2 separate regions of the Homo sapiens genome follow, and region 2 is linked to region 1. Evidence: fine-mapped expression QTL. A gene starts in region 1. The other region holds a variant in brackets. All regions are shown on one strand. Distances are from middle to middle.

Region 1 (8,981 bases):
GCTATTCCATTTCTCAAGAAACTTTCAATGGTTTATTTCCTAACTTAACAAGTTTAAATTCCTCTGGCTGGCTTTTTCAGCCCCTCACAATCTGTTCTTCATACTAAATTTTTAATCTTATTTCTCAAGATGCCACAATAAGTATCCCTGCATCGTTTTTTTGTTTTTTGGTTTTTTTTTGTTTTTTTTTTTTTGAGACAGAGTCTCACTCCCTCACCCAGGCTGGAGTGCAGTGGTGTGATCTTGGCTCACCGCAACCTCCACCTCCTGGGTTAAAGTGATTCTCCTGCCTCAGTCTCCCAAGTAGCTGGGACCACAGGCACGCGCCACCACGCCCAGCTAATTTTTGTATTTTTAGTAGAGAAGAGGTTTCGCTATGTTGGCCAGGCTGGTCTTGAACTCCTGACTTCAAGTGATCCGCCTGCCTCGGCCTCCCAAAGTGCTGGGATTACAGGTGTGAGCAACCGCACCCGGCCAATATGTACCCTTTTTAATGGTCTTATGAATATGGCCTATAGGTGTCTTACCACATGCTGTTTCCCTGTCTTGGAGTAAATTCTTTTCTTCCCATCCTTTCTCGGAAAAATTCTATCCATTCTTCAGGTATGTTCTCCTTATACAGCTATCTTTAACTAGTAGGAAGAGACTTTTAAGAGAGATTGTTCTTACTCTCTTGTTTTGCATGATATGTACTTATAGCTATTTCTTTTTTTTTTTTTTTTTTTTTTTGAGACGAAGTCTTGCTCTGTCGCCCAGGCTGGAATGCACTGGCACGATCTCGGCTCACTGCAAGCTCTGCCTCCCGGGTTCACGCCATTCTCCTGCCTCAGCCTCCCGAGTAGCTGGGACTACAGGTGCCCGCCACCATGCCTGGTTTATTTTTGTATTTTTAGTAGAGACGGGGTTTCACCATGTTAGCCAGGATGGTCTCGATCTCCTGACCTCGTAATCCACCCGCTTCGGCCTCCCAAAGTGCTGGGATTACAGGCATGAGCCACCGCGCCTGGCCCTTATAGCTGTTCTTTTATAGCATCTAGCACAGTGCTGAGCTCAGAAGAAATGTTCAATAACTACATGACTGATTTTAAAGTGGTATATCCCATCTAAAAACTGTATGTAATCTAGGTCTGTTGTTGCTTGAAACATGTAGACATTAGTTTGAGGTGACAGCCTATGAAAATAATTTAGATTTTACAACATTTAGAAAATGGCTAAAATATTAAATAAATGGAGAGCGGGGGAGAAAGAGGTTACATTGAGGTTAAGACATTTCAGTTGTTCAACCTGGACTAACTTGATCTCACCAATGAAGTCTCTGAAAAATAAACAGTTTAGGCAGAAGGCTGTTCACTGCCAAATCATTTTCTATCACCGCAAAGTTCAATTAACTACTCCAGTGAAATTCCCTTAAATGATATTCAGAACATCATGGTGAACAGGAGGCAATCAGTTCCCTATTATACTTTTAAAGAACATTCTCTCCTCTCTTTCCACTTCTTGTTGTGTTGCCCCTCCCAATAGATTTCCTCTAAAGAATTTAAATCACCTTCTAACCTCTTTAAGCTTACATGCATCAATGAGGTAAGTTATAAGTCTTGCCAAAATGTACTGCTTCTGATCTTTTCTAAAAGACATTTTCCTTGATACTCCCCCATAACAGCTATTTAGTAATCATAAACCAATTTTCAACAGAAATTGTTATTCAAATAAATCCGTGATACTTTATAAATATGACATTTCCTAGATTGAAGTTGAAAACCTTTGCACTGGGCCAGAACTTCCTTTGTTTTGTAGCAGGCCTGATAAAATCCTGACCATTGCCTAACATACAGTATGGGTATTAGTAGATCGATTTTGGAAGAGTCTCTTGACATCAGGGATGTCAAGAGATGTAGATATAAGGTGTTGCTATCTTGTACTGGCTGCTCTCAGAATCCTGACCTCAAGTGATCCTCCCTCCTCGGCCTCCCTAAGTGCTGGAATTATAGGTGTGAGCCACCATACCTAGCAAATTTTTATTAAGCACTTGCTATGTGCTAGCACTATTTAGGCACGGGGGTTATAATGGTAAATACAGCAGACAAAAATTATTTCCCTAGGAGAACTTACATTTAAATGTGGGAGACAGTCCAAAAGCAAAATATATATTATCTTATTGATAACTGCTAAGGAAAAAAAATAAAGTATAGAAGTGGGGATATGAAATGGGAAGGAGTGTTGAAATTTTAGATAAGATAACTAGGGAAGACATCATGCAGGTAACTTTTGAATAAAGACATAAAGGAAGAAAGTAAAGATATGAGACAGAAACATTATATTCTTATAATAGAACAAGAAAGGAGAGGGGAAGGGAGGTGGCATTGTGTGTGCAAGGAGTAGGCAATATACCAGTCTGGAAGTAATTCACTTCTGCATATAACAATCAGTATTGGTTCTCACTATGGTTACAACACCGGTGCATTAGGACTCAGTATATGCACTAAGCCTGAACAATCCTTTGGTTTTAATTGGCAGGAAGGCTAAGGAGATGGCTTGTAGATTGAAGTAGAACAAAAAAGGCACTTTAACTAGTGTCAGATGGGAAATGAGAAAGCCACTTCAGCTGCTTTTGCTAATTTCAACGCTTACATCCAAATAAATGATAGAAGATACTCCATGAAATTATTATAATATGTAATTAGATAAGGAAGTAGGAAAAATAAAGCAAGTTAACTTGACAATCTGGAAGAGATTAATGAGTGTTAAGGAGAGATGAACAAAAAATGATGAGCAGCAATGCAAAGGCCCAGGCTGGTCTTCTGGAGGAGTAATAAAATTAATGTGTAACATGGCCGATGTGGGGGCAGTGAGGGGCCCTGAGGGTGGGGTCTGCATTGGTGTATTATGGGTTGAATTGTGTACCCCTCCCGGATTCTTTTTTTTTATTTTTATTTTTTTTGAGACAGGGTCTTGCTCTGTGGCCCAGGCTGGAGTGCAGTGGTGCAATCTCAGCTCACTGCAACCTCCGCCTCCCGGGTTCAAGCGATTCTCCTGCCTCAGCCTCCCAAGTAGCTGGGATTACAGACACGTGCCACCATGCCCAGCTAATTTATTTATTTTATTTATTTTTTAGTAGAAATAGGGTTTTGCCATGTTGGCCAGGCTGATCTCCAGCTCCTGACTTAAGTGATCTGCCCTCCTGAGCCTCCCAAAGTGTTAGGATTACAGGCGTGAGCCACTGTGCCTGGCCCTGGCTAATTTTTTGTATTTTTAGTTAGAGATGGGGTTTCGTCATGTTGGCCAGGCTGGCCCTATTCATATGTAGAAGTCCTAACCCTTAGTCCCTTAGAATGTGACCTGATTTGGAAATAGGGTCATTGCAGATATAATTAACGTCCATGAGGTCATACTGGAGGATGGTTCGCCCCTAATCCGTTATGACTGCTGTTCTTATTAAAAAGGGAAATTTGAACACACAAGCACACTGGGAGAACAGCCATGTTCAGATTGGAGTTACGCTACCATATGCCAAGAAACTACCAGAAGCTAGGAGAGGCATGGACGAGATCCCTCCCCAGTGCCCTCAGAGGGAGTACAGCCCTGCCTACACCTTGATTTCAAACTTCTGGCCTCCAGAATTGTGAGATAATAATTTGTTGTTTTAAGTCACCCAATTTGTGGTATGTTACGGCAGCCCTAGGGAACTAATGTAGTGCGATTATTTTAAGAGGCAAACAAGAAGAACATCCTAAGAGTGAGGTGCCTGATAGTCTCATGCATCAGAAAAGTCCCATATATTTGACTTCAGCAGTTAAATTGTATTTTCCTGTTTTACCAAACCTTTTTAATTATCGTTTCTTGCTGTAGAAAAATCACATAAAATCTGCTCTTTGCTTAACAAATTACAGGGTCGCTTCTGATTTGTGTGCTCGAAATACTAGTCACCAAGCAGAAACTGATGACTGTGAGAATAGGCGACTAATTAACAAACAAACAAAAAAAGCCCTTTCTCAACATTGGATTGACCGAGTGAAAGTTGACAGGGGAAAGACACCTCGATTCAGCCATCTTTCTCCAACAGGTTGTACTGCTGACTGCACAGTGTCCCCTGAAGGACTCCGGTCGCTGTAGCCTTGGAGAGCGACCAGATTCCTCACCCCACTCAGGAGGAGCCAGGGCAAGATTAGGGTGCAGAGAAATCGGTTTCCTCCAGCCTCCTACCCCAGGGAAGAGGACCGAAGCCAGCCCCGGCCTCACGTGCATGCCCAGTCGGGAGGACGCCCTCAGTGGGAGAGCCCTGCTCAGGTTCTCCCCGAGGCCGAGGTGGTGGTGGGAGCGGGCGGTGGCCCCGGGATCAAAGGACCTCCGCCGGGTTAGCTTTGGCAGTGCCGCAGCCAACCCAGCAGGACGCTTATTTTCAAGCCTGGGGAACGTAGTTCCTCCCGCTTTCACAGCAGGATGGAGCCCGACGGCACCCCGGTTAAAGGGCCTTTCCAGAGCCCTCCGGGGAACGGAAGGCCGCGCTCCTCCGGGAGGGAGAACGACACACTCTTCGAGGAAATCCTGGGGCGGGCGCTCTCCTCGCTGCCGGGACCTTTGTTTCTAAGCTGGCCACAGCTAGAGCAGCCTTAAGTGTCCCAATGACACGCCTGCTATCGAGCGCCCTCCCGGCGGCCCCTCCTCAGCCAGCTGCCCAGCGGGCGTCCTCAGGTGTCCCCAAGAGGCGCAGGCCTAGTCGCCTACACGTCCTTTCCAACTTCGTCAGCTCTGGCTTCCCACCACCCCTCCCGGCTCTGCGGCGGCCCAGCCTCTTCTCCGGTTAATTCCGGCCTGTGCGGCCCGGTCGTCCCGTAAAGAAGGCAAGCCCGGGTTCCGGGTGAGGGGTTGGTGGGTCAGGGTGGGAAAGCAAGGCAGCGGTGAGTCCTCTGCTAGCAGATCGGGCTCAATATCCCCATTCCCTGTTTTCTCCGGGCCCGCCCTCCGCCTCTCAGGCGGCCGCCATGAAGATCCTCTGCCGCGGCTGCAGCCGGTCTGCAAACACACGCCCACCCGCACGCTTAGCCTCGCTCGCCACAGAGGGAGGGGTGGAAAAGGCACTGAGCATGCTCGGTGGGGAGGGCGGGGCGCTCGTGGGCTGCGAGTCGGGGCCGGAGCTCTTCAGGCCGGCTCCCGCGCCTCCGCCGCCCGCCCGCTCGGAGCCGCGCCCGCCGCAGGCTGCGCCCGCCAGTCCCGCCCCGCCCCGCCCCGCCCCGCCCCCCGCCGCTCGTCCCCGCCGCGGCCGCGCCGCCTGCAGCAGCACCAGCTGCTCCTCCCCGGCGGCCGCCCCCCGCGGGTCCCTCCCTGGCTGCGGGAGAGACGGAGGTAGAGGGAGGACACAGAGCCGCGCCGCCCGCACCACAGACCTTCGCCTCGCCCCGCCGGTTCCTCACCCTCGGGGAGCAACATGGGTAAGTCATCCTTCCTCCGCCGTCATCGCCTGACATTTTTTTCTTTCTCGGCGTGCTGCAGGGTGGGAAGCATTTCTCGCGCAAAGTTGCCGGATTTCTCCAGTCCCCGGGTGTGAGACGGTGGCTGTTCCTCCGGGGAGAGTCGGCGCACGCGGAACGCACGCCGGGTGCCGGGGCTGGGAGGGTCCCGAGCGCGGGCTGGGGTGGGGTCGGCCGCGGGCCGGACCGCCGCCCGGCTCCCCGGCACCTCGCAGCCTCGCCTCCCCTCCTCCATTCTTCCTGCCGGTGCCCGGGCACCACGGAGCCTGCCTCGCGGGCTCGCATCTGCAGCTCCATCCCCGTTTCTCCAGAGGCCGCCCGCTTCCTTTTCCCCCGCGTGTACTGAGCTCGAGGCTCGGGTCCGACCACTACCACTTCGTGTAACTTCCTTCTCTGTCAGTGCGACCTTTCCCCGTCGTGGAGACTCCTCATCCCGGGCGGGGAAGTGGAAGCAAGTAGTTTGTGAGGGAGATCTTACAACCTGCACGGAAATTATTTTCCAAGGGGGAGAGCGGACAGCCTCATAGGTTGAAAGGATGACTTGTCAGAGGCCACGAGGAACGTGAGGCAGGATAGAGCCGCTAGCTGTTGAATTAGTGCTGGGTGACTACAGTGTGCAATATTCCCGTGCCCAGCCTATTTTCTGGATTCCTTCGTCCGTCTTCTGTAGCAGGAAACTGCGCCCTGTAACGTTGTTACCGAACTTACATGGTAGTTATTCTTTCCCAGCTTCCTCCTGTCTAATCTGCATAATCTGATTTTAGTTCCTTTGTATTTATAGTTAATCTGAAGAGATTGGTTTGGATGAGAGATTTAAGAGCAAATATGTTTTATAAAACGATATATACATTTGACCTAATTTTTTTACATCATCTATTGCTTAACTGTTACATTCAGTAATCACAGAAACGTCTGATGAATGCTGTCATGTAATTAAGAGCTCAAAGTTTCTTTTAATAGTAGCGACTTGTACTAAGTTCCCCAGTTTGCTTCCACTCCTGTCTGTCATAATTTCCTCTTTTTAAAATTTGCTCCCTTGGCATCTGTCAGCTGGGACTTTTCCCACCCCTTCTGTGCGAGTTATTTAAAGCTTGAGATGAATGTGGTCCTTTCATCTGTTAATACAGTGCTCAACACGTTCAGAGTTAGGTGGTGCAACTCAGAATCTTCAAGAAGTATCTAAACCTGGGAATGGTGTCCATAGAGTTTTCTGGAACAGCAAATGCTTCAGGCTTTGATCCCGACCTTTGGCCATATATCTGGAAGAGGCCAGGGTTGACGGAGGAGGTGGTATGAATCAAAAAAGGTCTAGGGCTCTGAATTTTATTTTCAGTTGTTTTTTCTTTTTAACGTGAGTACTCGATATGCTGAACAAATTTCTGTAAAAATTGGGTGGCCCATTTATGCGTGTCTGCCTTTCTCTTAAAGTAGATTTTTAAATAGGTATTATATCAGATTATTGGACAAGCTGTATATTTCCGTCGAACATACACACGTTTATGTGTGTTCCCTTTGAACATACACAGATAAAATACACTTTGAAATAAAATTCCTTTGAACATACATACACAGATAAGTGTGTGTATGTTCAAAGGAAATATACAGTATGTCCAATAACCCTATCTGATATTGGACTGTAAGTTCAAGTTTGGCTTGCAAAATATATTTTCCCATGTTTCCAGGTGAGCCTTAAACAATCCATTTAACATTTTAGCTTACATGTTAAATCCGTACTTTTTCAGTGGAAAAAATCCAATTCCGTTACAACACTGGTGAATAAAAATACCTAAAAGAAATTATCTACTTAAAAATAATCTTCAAAATCTTGAGTGCTATTGCTTGATTTTTAAAAAGGGCCAAATAGAAACCTATCTCTCATTTTGAAGCCATCTCTGATACTCTTTGGTTAATCTGTCTCTTCATAAGCACTGTTTGTACCTTGTTAGAAGCTTTTTAGCACTTACGTAATCTACCATATAATAAAGTTGTTTATGTGTGTGCTGTGCATTTAATCATGAGTCCCAGAAGATGAAAAGTGTCTTATTATTTTTTGTGTTCCCCACAGTGCTTTTCAAATAGAAATTCAGTAAATCTTTGGCAAATTGTTGAACTTAAAGCCACCTATTATTTTCAACTTTTGAACCTGAAGATATAGTCTTCATCTGAACAAACATTTGGGTTGGTACATATTATCTAGTTGGGGGATAAGCAGAAACAGAAAGGTATAATTGTACCATGCCTCCCAGTACACTGTAGGTTGGTTTTGAGTCAACCTCAGGCAATCTGTTTCCTTCTAAACTCTCTTCAATGGTAAGGCAGTTTCATGTATGATCAGTAGGTACATATGATAATTTAAAATTGAAACCTTGGGGAACAGTTTTATATCTGGGCCAAGGAAGTTAGTATAACAATTCATGTACACATAAGAAGGTAGAAGGTATACTGGTTAATGATGAGGGGAGGGAGAAGTGCTTTTTAATTTGTCTCAAGAAATAAATAAGGTTGATTTTTAAAGATAGTCTCAGCCGGGCGCGCACTTTGGGAGGCCGAGGCGGGCGGATCACCTGAGGTCAGGAGTTGGAGACCAGCCTGACTAACATGGTAAAACCCTGTCTCTACTAAAAATACAAAAAAACAATTAGCCGGGTGTGGTGGCGGGCGCCTGTAATCCCAGCTGTTTGGGAGGCTGAGGCAGGAGAATCACTTGAACCCGGGAGGCGGAGTTTGCAGTGAGCCGAGATCATGCCATTGCACTCCAGCCTGGGCAACAAGAGGGAAACTCTGTCTCAAAAAAAATATATATATATATTCTCATGGCAATAATTTCCTACACAAGAGAGTGAAAGAAAAGTCCTATATAACTTTATGGCCATAGCTACTATTTTATGTATATGTCATATTTCAGATTCAACATACATTTAGTGTTTGTTGGATATCAACTGTGCAGTGTACTGTACTACAGTGTACTGGGAGGACAAAGATAAAAAGATATTCATGTTTCACATTTATAATCTTAGCAGGAACAATATGACACATACACAAATTATAATAGAAGTAAAAGTATAAGTTATATAAAAGACCTTTACATATATTATAGATTCAGAGAATGGAGAGAACGTTTTAGAGAAATGGTGTTATTTGAACCAAAGGTGGGTTAAACTTCTTAAAGGTAGAAATGAGACTGTTAATCAGAATGGAGTTGGTCTGGGGTTGGAAGAGAAATGACATAAATGAAGATAGATAGGAAACATTTTATGAATTTCCAGGATATGATTAAACAGCATTGTTTGGCTAGAGCAAAAGGTAAGGAAATAGTGGGTAACAGACATGAAAAAGTAGTACAGTAATAGCTAATGACCAGATAATGTAGGATCTAAAATGCCAAGCTGAAGAATTTTAATCTGACTTACCTATTGAGAGACCACTAAACATTTTTATGTAGTTAAGTGATGGATCACATCTGTGGTATAGGAAAATTTGTCAGTTGAGTGCAGGATCGATTAGATGAGAAACTAC
Region 2 (8,981 bases), 100 kb after region 1:
AGATGTCAGGCTCATCTGTTAATAAAAGTCAACACCAAAATGATGGTAGGAAGTTTGTGGTTTTGGGGGAAAGTTCAAAATTGGGGCTGTAGGACATGTAAATCATGAAGATACGATTTTTTAAAATAGCCAAATAGTAATATAGGTATGCTATGGTAGAGATCTTGATTGTGCATCCATTAATGTATAGTGTGCTTAAAATGTCTATAGGCTAAGGAATTATTTTGACTTTGATATGTGGACAGGAAGGAGCCTCTGAAAGTAACTTGAAGAAATTGATATTTTCAGTTTTGTAGCATCATATAGTCTAATTGGAATGGACAGAGATGTGAGGCAGAGATATCAGGAAGCCATTACAGGAGGCCGGGTGTGGTGTGGTAAATAGTGACTGCGGCAGAGAGAACGAAATTATATTGTAAAGTGAGAGACAGTACTCAGATAGTTTATTATCAGTTTGGCTGGTTTTTGCGTAGCACTGCACCAGGTTTATTTAAGCAATGTAAAGTACTCTATCTCTTCAGATAGTTTACACTTTGAGAAACTATGATCTTTCCATTTTTGTACTTGGTATTAAATTTAAATCCCTCTTTTATTAAATGGTGTTTGGAAATCCAAGATTCTATAAAGTTTACCTTAAAATTGTAGGACAAAGAACACATATTACTGCTTTTTTCCCCATGCTTGATTACTTTCCAAATACTATGTTATAAAAAGCTAATGTCTTAGGGAAGACATGAAATAGTAATTTCGAGTAATTGTTCTTAATTTTATAGATACGAAAGTAGAGGCAACCTGTGAGAGAGTATTGCACGTGGCAAAAATATTAGATGATTTTTCTTGGGTTCAATAAGAAGTCATATATGGTTGCCTTCCCCCCCAACCCCACCCCCATTCTCTGAGTCAGAAGTCTGAATGGCTTTAGAACTTTCCTTTCCTCATTAAGAGGACTTAGGTAGGGTGGGAAAAGTCTAATTATAGAGGCCTACTTGGGGGTTTAAAAACATTTTTTGTCTAAATCTGTTTTTTCCCCTTACCTTTACCACTCTCATTTCACCTGTTAAAGTCAAAGTTTAGATATGTGAAACATAAGATTTCCAGTCTGCTTATTGAAACCCTGTCAACACATATTATCCTCTGCTCTTTTTAATAGGGTTTTGTTTACATTTTTAAAATTTTCTTATTTGTAACCAAGTTGAAGTACTGAGAACTTTCTCAACTTTTAATCAGCCTTTTCCTTGCTACAAGTAGGGTGCATTTTCCTTGGCGGTGAGGAAATATGAAAAATAAATGCTACGTAAAAGTGAATAATTCAGGGCCAGGCATAGTGGCTCACGCTTGTAATCCCATCATTTTGGGAGGGCGAGGCAGGTGGATCACTTGAGGTCAGGAGTTCAAGAGCAGTCTGGTCAACATGGTGAAACCCCATCTCTACTTTTTAAAAAGAAAACAAAACAAAACAAAACTAGCCAGGCATGGTGGCATATACCTGTAATTCCAGCTTTGGGAGGCTGGGGCATGAGAATTGCTTGAACCCAGGAGGCAGTGATTTAAGATCACAGCACTGTACTCCAGCCTAGGTGACGGAGTGAGACTCTGTCTCAAAAAAAAAAAAAAAAAGAGTGAATAATTTACATTTTTCCTGCTGAGTAAAATGTTTTTACCCGTTGAGAAACTATGCTGTCATCAGTTCAGATTAAATTCTAAATAACTATATATGCATTTGCTCTCACACACACACATATATATATACATATATATATAGTCTAGCATAATTTAAGTATGAAATAGTTTGGTACAAAAACACCTTTTATATTTAAAATATTTATAAAACGTTTTGATCTTGAACAATTGGAGTAATAAATTGGAACAATAAATTACATACATTATTATCTAAATGCTATGTAAAAGTAACTTTTATGGAAATAATTGAGTTAAATGACTTTATAATTTGTGTATAAAGATATTCAGTCTTTTGCTAATAAAATGATACAGAAATATAAAAATATAGGGAGTAAAGAAAGCTTTAGTAATTTCTTTAGGAAATGTATTGCCATTTATGGAGCCTTTATTAGATAAAGGGTTTTTGAAAAAGTAGAATTATTGAACAATTTTAACTAATGTGAGAAATCTGTTGGACAACAGAAATTAATACTAGTATCAGCAGGCACACCAAAAACTGTGTCCATCAAATGCTGGGCCATAACCTCATTTTATGCTGTGCCCTTGGTACTAGTGCTTTGGGAAATGAAAGATTTAATTCATTTACTTTTCCTGATCTGGCATTACAAGTGTAAATGTATATACACCTTGAAATTTTCCCACCTAAATGCAGATTTTTAAACCTGAATATAATGTCACAAAATTGCAAATTGCATGCTTCTCTTTTGATATGTGTGCACTTAACAGTCATGGTGGCTTTTTCTTCATGACTCATTTTTGTGATTTTACTTATGTAATATGTTATAGCTTTTGCTTTTATATCTAGTCTTTCAGGGATTTTGCCTGAATCTGGAAGGTGAATAAATTGCGTTTTGAGTTTTAGAAACGATATTCATGAGCTTTTTTATTTGAATGCTGAAAACATTCGATTATGTCTAAGGTACATAATAGAAATTCACTGTTGGCAAAATTATAGGGGGAAATGTAAGCATTAGAATTTAATTTTCTTTCCTAGTAGACTTCATAAATACATTTTAACTTTATCTTGAAAAACAATGTAGGGTCTGCATGTGGTGGCTCACAGCTGTGATCCTAACATTTTCAGAGGCTAAGGTGAGAGGATCACTTGAGCCCAGGAGTGCAAGATTAGCCTGGGCGTCATAGCAAGATCGCATCTCTACAAAAAATAAATTTAGCTGTGCATGATGGAGCACTTCTGTAGTCCTGCTACTCAGGAGGCTGAGGTAGGATGACACGAGCCTGGGAGTTCAAGGCTGCAGGGAGACATGATTGTGCTACCACACTCCAGCCTGGGTGACAGAGCAAGACCTTGTCTGAAAACAGACAACAACTAACACAATGTAGGTATGTCTATTACCATTTCCCTGCTCCAGGAAATTAAAATAGAACTTGGCAAAATTAAAAGCAGTATATTTAATAGGAATGGGAAAAAAAAAGCCTTCATAATCATGCAGATCAGAATGGCCAGTATTTCAGACTTAGAAAAATACGTTGCTGCTCATGATTTACATCCCTGACTTCTAATCTCTTTGAGTGTGAAAACTTCCTTTTTAACACCACAAATTATTGTTCTCTCCCTTTGAGGATATAGGTCACATATTTTTATAGTAATGATTGTACTTACAAAATGTATGTACTGAGAAGATATGAAATAATGAGTAAATGCCAGGAAATTCTCACTCTATGTCTTTGTATTCTTTGGTGTATACATACTACAATTAAATCCACACATATTGATTGAACCAACTATGTTTAGGGGACACTGCCTGTGATGGGGATTATAGGGGAAAGAATGAGCAAGAAGTCTCTATCCTTGTGAGGCTTTCACAGGAGGAGGTAGATAATAAACAAGTAAATACTACAGAAAAGATATTTATAGATTGTGATGACTGACATCAAGGGAATAAAGAAGGTGATGTATAATAATGGAGTGTATTTGAGGGTGAAGAAAGTTCTCTCTGTGGATGTTATTTAAGCTGAGGTCTGGAAAATGAGAATGAGCCAGCTAAGAGAAGAGGAAGAATATTCCTTATAGAAGTAGAGTAATTGAGCTAAGTGTGGTGGCTCACATCTGTAATCCCAGAATTTTGGGATGGCAAGGCTCAAGGGCTGCTTGAGGCCAGGAGTTTGAGACCAGCCTGGGCAACACAGCAAGACTCTGTCTCTACAAAATAAAAAATGAGCCATTATGGTGGCACGTGTCTGTAATCCCAGCTACTCTGGAGGCTGAGGTGGGAGGATCACTTGAGCCCAGGAGTTCTAGGCTGCAGTGAGCCATCACACCACAGCACTCCAGCCTAAATAACAGTGAGACCCTGTCT[C/CA]AAAAAAAAAAAAAAAAAAAAAAAAAAAGTGTAGTAATTGTAAAGCCCTGAGAGGGCAAGGGATTTGGTAGAAATTCAGAAAGGAAACCAGGTTATGCAAGATACTGTGAACAGGGAGTATTGTGTGATAAAGTTCAAGAAACAAACAAAAGTGTTGATGATAGAAAGCCTCATGAATCATCTTGAAGTAGTGAGAAGTTGTTGAAGGCAAGAAGTGACATGATCTGATTTGGATTCTAAAAACATCACTCTTGGAGCTGCATGGAAAAGGAGTTGAGAAGCATGGAAATTAAGAGTTAAGAAGGGAAGCATTGAGACTAATTGAAAGACTTTTGTGATTGTCCAGTCACAACATAATGGTAACTTGGATTAAGTTATGGTAGTGTGGAAGGAGGAGGAACTTAGAAAGTATTTGGAGTGATGGATTGGATTGGGAAAGTGCGAAAGGGAGAAATCAAGAGTGATTTCTAGGACTTGAGTACCTGGACAGAAGATGGGGCAATTTGCCGATGTAGGAAAGAACAGAGGTTGTTTTTTGTTTCTGGGTTTTTCCGTCATTGCTGCTTGTTTTTATTTTGTTTTGCTGCAGGCATTATTAAGTCTGAGATTCTTCATAGAGACACAAGAAGAAATGGCACATAGGCGATTTCTATATCTTTATATTCTTTTACCTTTGGGGAATAAATATTCAAAAAGTTAAAATAATCTCCTGCATTTAGCAAAATGTTGTTAACTGTTTCTTAGATGGAATATGTAGATTCAGGGAACCAAGAGAAATTAGAAAGCTTAAGTGAATAAAACTACCTTGAAATCATAGTTTTTTACGTAGGAGGGAATTTAAAAGTCATCTCAGCCACCCCTGCCAAATTTTACAGATAAAAAAACTGAGACCTGAAAATTCAAGTGACTTATCAGAATCAACAGCTAAATTGGTGATAGTGTTGATCTGAAAACCAGATCTCAGGTTCATTGTTTCCGTAAATATATCTGAGGAAGTTATCACTGTCAAATACATAAATGCACTGTCATTAAATACATTTATGCTTCAGTGTGAATAATTCTGAGCACGCAGGTTTTGGAATATGTTTTAAGGATTTTACTAAAAGCTGTTCTTAAGCCAACATTTTGTTTAATTTGTTTAAAGAACACAAAAATAAAATTTACCTAATTGAAAGAACATAGAGTAGAACCAAGTGATGGAGGAAAAACTTTTTACATTTTTCCAAGTATAAAAGCTTTATTTAAAAAAAAAAAAGTATGATGTGAGGGCTGGGTGCAGTGGCTCACACCTGTAATCCCAGCATTTTGGGGAGGCTAAGGCTGGAGGATCACTGGAGTCCAGGAGTTCAAGACCCACCAGAGCAACATAGGGAGATCCCATCTCTACAAAAAAGTAAAAGAATTAGCCTGGCGTGGTGGCACACACCTGTAATCCCAGCTACTCCAGAGGCTGAGACTTGAGCCCAGAAAGTCAAGGCTGCAGTGAACTCTGATCAGGCCACTGCATTCCAGCCTGGGTGACAGAGCAAGAAGACCCTGTCTCAAAAAAAGAAAAAAAAAGTATGTATGTGAATAAACATTCTTTATTATATTTGATTTATTCTTGACATTTTCTCTGTAGAGAAGTGTGTGAAATACTGACTTCCCTTTTAAACTCATTGGGAATAAAGGATGTTCAGATTTGATTGGATTCTTAGTAATACCTAAGGAAACCCAATTAAAAATTTGAGAGTTTGACTCTTCCCAGTAAACCAGCTAGACAAATACAGGTATGTTCTTCAAGTTTGCAGACAAGTATCTATTGCTTTGTATTGTTTTCTTTACACACAAGGTGTATAAAGAAAAATTAAAATTGAGCCAGGCATCATGGCTCACACCTGTAATCCCAGCACTTTGGGAGGCTGAGGTGAGCAGATCCTTTGAGCTCAGGAGTTTGAAACCAGCCTGGGCAACATGGCGGAACCCCCTATCCCCTCTCTACAAAAAAGTGCAATAATTGGCCTGTTGTGGTGGCATGCACCTATAGACCCTGCTACTTGGGAGGCTGATGTGGGAGGATCGCTTGAGCCTGGGAGATCGAGGCTGCAGTGAGTGGAGATTGTGCCACTGCATTCCAGCCTGGGCAACAGAGCAAGACCCTGTCTCAAAAAAATAAAATAATACTGTCCTTCTAATTGTTCTGAATAAATTCACTTTTTCCTGCAATAATGATATAAGGAATTTATACACATCTAACTTTTTTTAAATGTTACTTTTTATCACTTTTGTTCGATTTTTACTGATTGTTAATATACCCTTTTAAATATCTCTATTGGCACAGCAAAGTAAGCTTTTCAGTTTAGTAGCTCTCTAACAAAATATTTTCTAATTCTGTGCTTTAAGTGAAATAAAACGGGGATGAAAGTGGCAAAACCATATTATCATGTCCATGAGCAGCCAAAAAGAAGTCTTTAGTGACCAGAGAAACCTTAACGTAAACAGTAAGAAGCAAGTAATAGGACAGAAACAAACAGATTCTTTACTCAGAATGTTTGTCATTTGAAGTAAATACAAGTGGTGGTTCTCTTTCTCTCACTCTCTTTTCAACATAATATGGGTGAGTTAATAAGTATTTAATATATATGTGATATGGTTTGGCTACATCCTCACCCAAATCTCATCTTGAATTCCCATGTATTGTGGGAGGGACCCAGTGGGAGGTAATTGAATCATGGGGGCAGGTCTTTCCCATGCTATTTTCGTGATAGTAAGTCTCATGAGATCTGATGGTTATTATAAGGGGGAGTTTTCGTGCACAAGCTCTCTTTGCCTGCTGCCATCCATTGAAGACATGACTTGCTTCTCCTTGCCTTTGAAGCCATGATTGTGAGGCTTTCCCAACCACGTGGAACTGTAAGTCCAATTACACCTCTTTCTTTTGTAAATTGCTCAGTCTTGGGTATGTCTTTATCAGCAGCATGAAAACAAACTAATACAGTAAATTGGTACCAGGAGTGGGGCACTGCTGAAAAGATACCCGAAAATGTGGAAGCGACTTTGGAACTGGGTAGTAGGAAGAGATTGGAGCAGTTTAGAGGGCTCAGAAGAAGACAGGAAAATGTAGGCAAGTTTAGACCCCTACAGGCTTGAATGGCTTTGCCCAAAATGCTGATAGTGATATGGACAATAAAGTGCAGGCTGAGGTGGTCTCAGATAGAAATGAAAAACTTGTTGGAAACTGGAGCAAAGGTGATTCTTGTTATGTTTTAGCAAAGAGACTGGCAGCATTTTGCCCCTGCCCTAGAGATTTGTGGAACTTTGGACTTGAGAGAGATGATTTAAGGTATCTGGCAGAAGAAATTTCTAAGCAGCAAAGCATTCAAGAGGTGACTTGGGTGCTGTTAAAAGCATTCAGTTTTAAAAGGAAAACAGAGCATAAAAGTTTGGAAATATGCAGCCTGACTATGTGACAGAAAAGAAAATTCTATTTTTCTGAGGAGAATTTCAAGCCATCTGCAGAAATCTGCGTAAGGAGGAACCGAATGTTAATCCCCAAGACAGTGGGGAAAACGTCTCCAGAGCATGTCAGAGGTCTTCACAGCAGCCCCTCCCATCACAGGCCTGGAGGCCTAGGAAGAAAAGATGGTTTTGTGGGCCGGGCCTAGGGCCTGCCTACTCTGTGCAGCCTAGGAACTTAGTACTCTGCCTTCCAGCCACTCCAGCTATGGTGAGCAGGGGCCAAGGTACAGCTCAGGCTGTGGCTTCAGAGGGTGGAAGCCCCAAGCCTTGGCAGCTTCTATGTGGTGTTGATCCTGCGAGTGCACAGAAGTCAAGAATTGAGTTTGGGAACCTCCACCTACATTGCAGGAAATGTATGGAAACACCTGGTTGGCCAGGCAGAAGTTTGCTTCAGGGGTGGGACCCTCATGGAGAACCTCTGCTAAGGCAGTGCAGAAGGGAAATGTGGGGTTGGACCCCCGCACAGAGTCCCTACTGGGGCATCACATAATGGAGCTGTGAGAAGAGGGCCACCATCCTCCAGACCCCAGGACGGTAGATCCATCAACAGCTTGCACCAGGCACCTGGAAAAGCTGCAGACACTCAACACCAGCCCATGAAAGTAACCAGGATGGGGGCTATACCCTGCAAACAAGAGGGCAGAGCTGCCCAAGACCATGGGAACCTACCTCTTGCATCAGCGTGACTTGGATGTGAGACATGGAGTCAAAAGAGATCATTTTGAAGCTTTAAGATTTGACTGCCCTGCTGGATTTCAGACTTGCATGCAGCCTGTAGCTCCTTTGTTTTGGCCAGTGCCTCCCATTTGGAATGGTTGTGTTTATCCAATGCCTATAGCCCCATTGTATCTAGGAAGTAACTAACTTGCTTTTGATTTTACAGGTTCATAGGCAGAAGGGATTTGCTTTGTCTCACATGAGACTTTGGACTGTGGACTTTTGAGTTAATGCTGAAATAAGAATTTGGGGGAATGTTGGGAAGGCATGATTGGTTTTGAAATGTGAGGACATGAGATTTGGGAGGGGCCGGGGGTGGAATGATATGATTTGGCTGTGTCCCCACCCAAATCTCATTTTTAATTCCCATGTATTGTGGGAGGGACCCAGTGGGAGATAATTGAATCATGGGGGCAGATCTTTCCTGTGCTGTTCTCATGATAGTAAGTCTCATGAGATCTGATAGTTACTGTAAGGGGGAGTTTTCCTGCACAAGCTCTGTTTGCCTGCTGCCATCCATGTAAGATGTGACTTGCTCCTCCTTGCCTTCTGCCATGATTGTGAGGCTTCCCCTGCCATGCGGAACTATAAGACCAATTAAACCTCTTCCTTTTGTAAATTGCCTAGTCTTGTGTATGTCTTTATCAGCAGCGTGAAAACAAACTAATACTGTATGTATTACCTCATCTTGGTTAACTGAGATCCATATTATGCACTGCTTTTTAATAAAAAGAGAAAGGAATGGAGATATGCCAGATTATTTGT

Direction of the effects. Alleles are on the strand shown, and positions count from the first base shown. SD is a standard deviation of normalised expression in the study named.
For the expression in CD4 T cells of the gene that starts at base 5,241 in region 1, allele CA in region 2 goes with a lower level than allele C (moderate effect, 0.61 SD a copy in Kasela 2017).

The links. PIP is the estimated chance that this variant, and not a neighbour inherited with it, causes the effect.
Region 2: its variant is fine-mapped to the expression of RAP1GDS1 in CD4 T cells (Kasela 2017, PIP 0.95).

What each region holds. Positions count from the first base shown.
Region 1 is chr4:98,256,144-98,265,124 of GRCh38, forward strand. RAP1GDS1 (Rap1 GTPase-GDP dissociation stimulator 1) reads left to right here and starts at 5,241. Exons shown (of 15, transcript NM_001100427.2): 1 at 5,241-5,426. The coding sequence starts at 5,423. RefSeq lists enhancers at 4,482-4,781, 4,533-5,095 and silencers at 5,062-5,361, 5,462-5,531.
Region 2 is chr4:98,359,477-98,368,457 of GRCh38, forward strand. The region is part of intron 4 of RAP1GDS1 (Rap1 GTPase-GDP dissociation stimulator 1); the gene reads left to right. Among named protein-coding and RNA genes, the nearest start is that of RAP1GDS1, 100 kb to the left of the region's middle. The variant C/CA (reference allele first, on the strand shown) is at 4,002.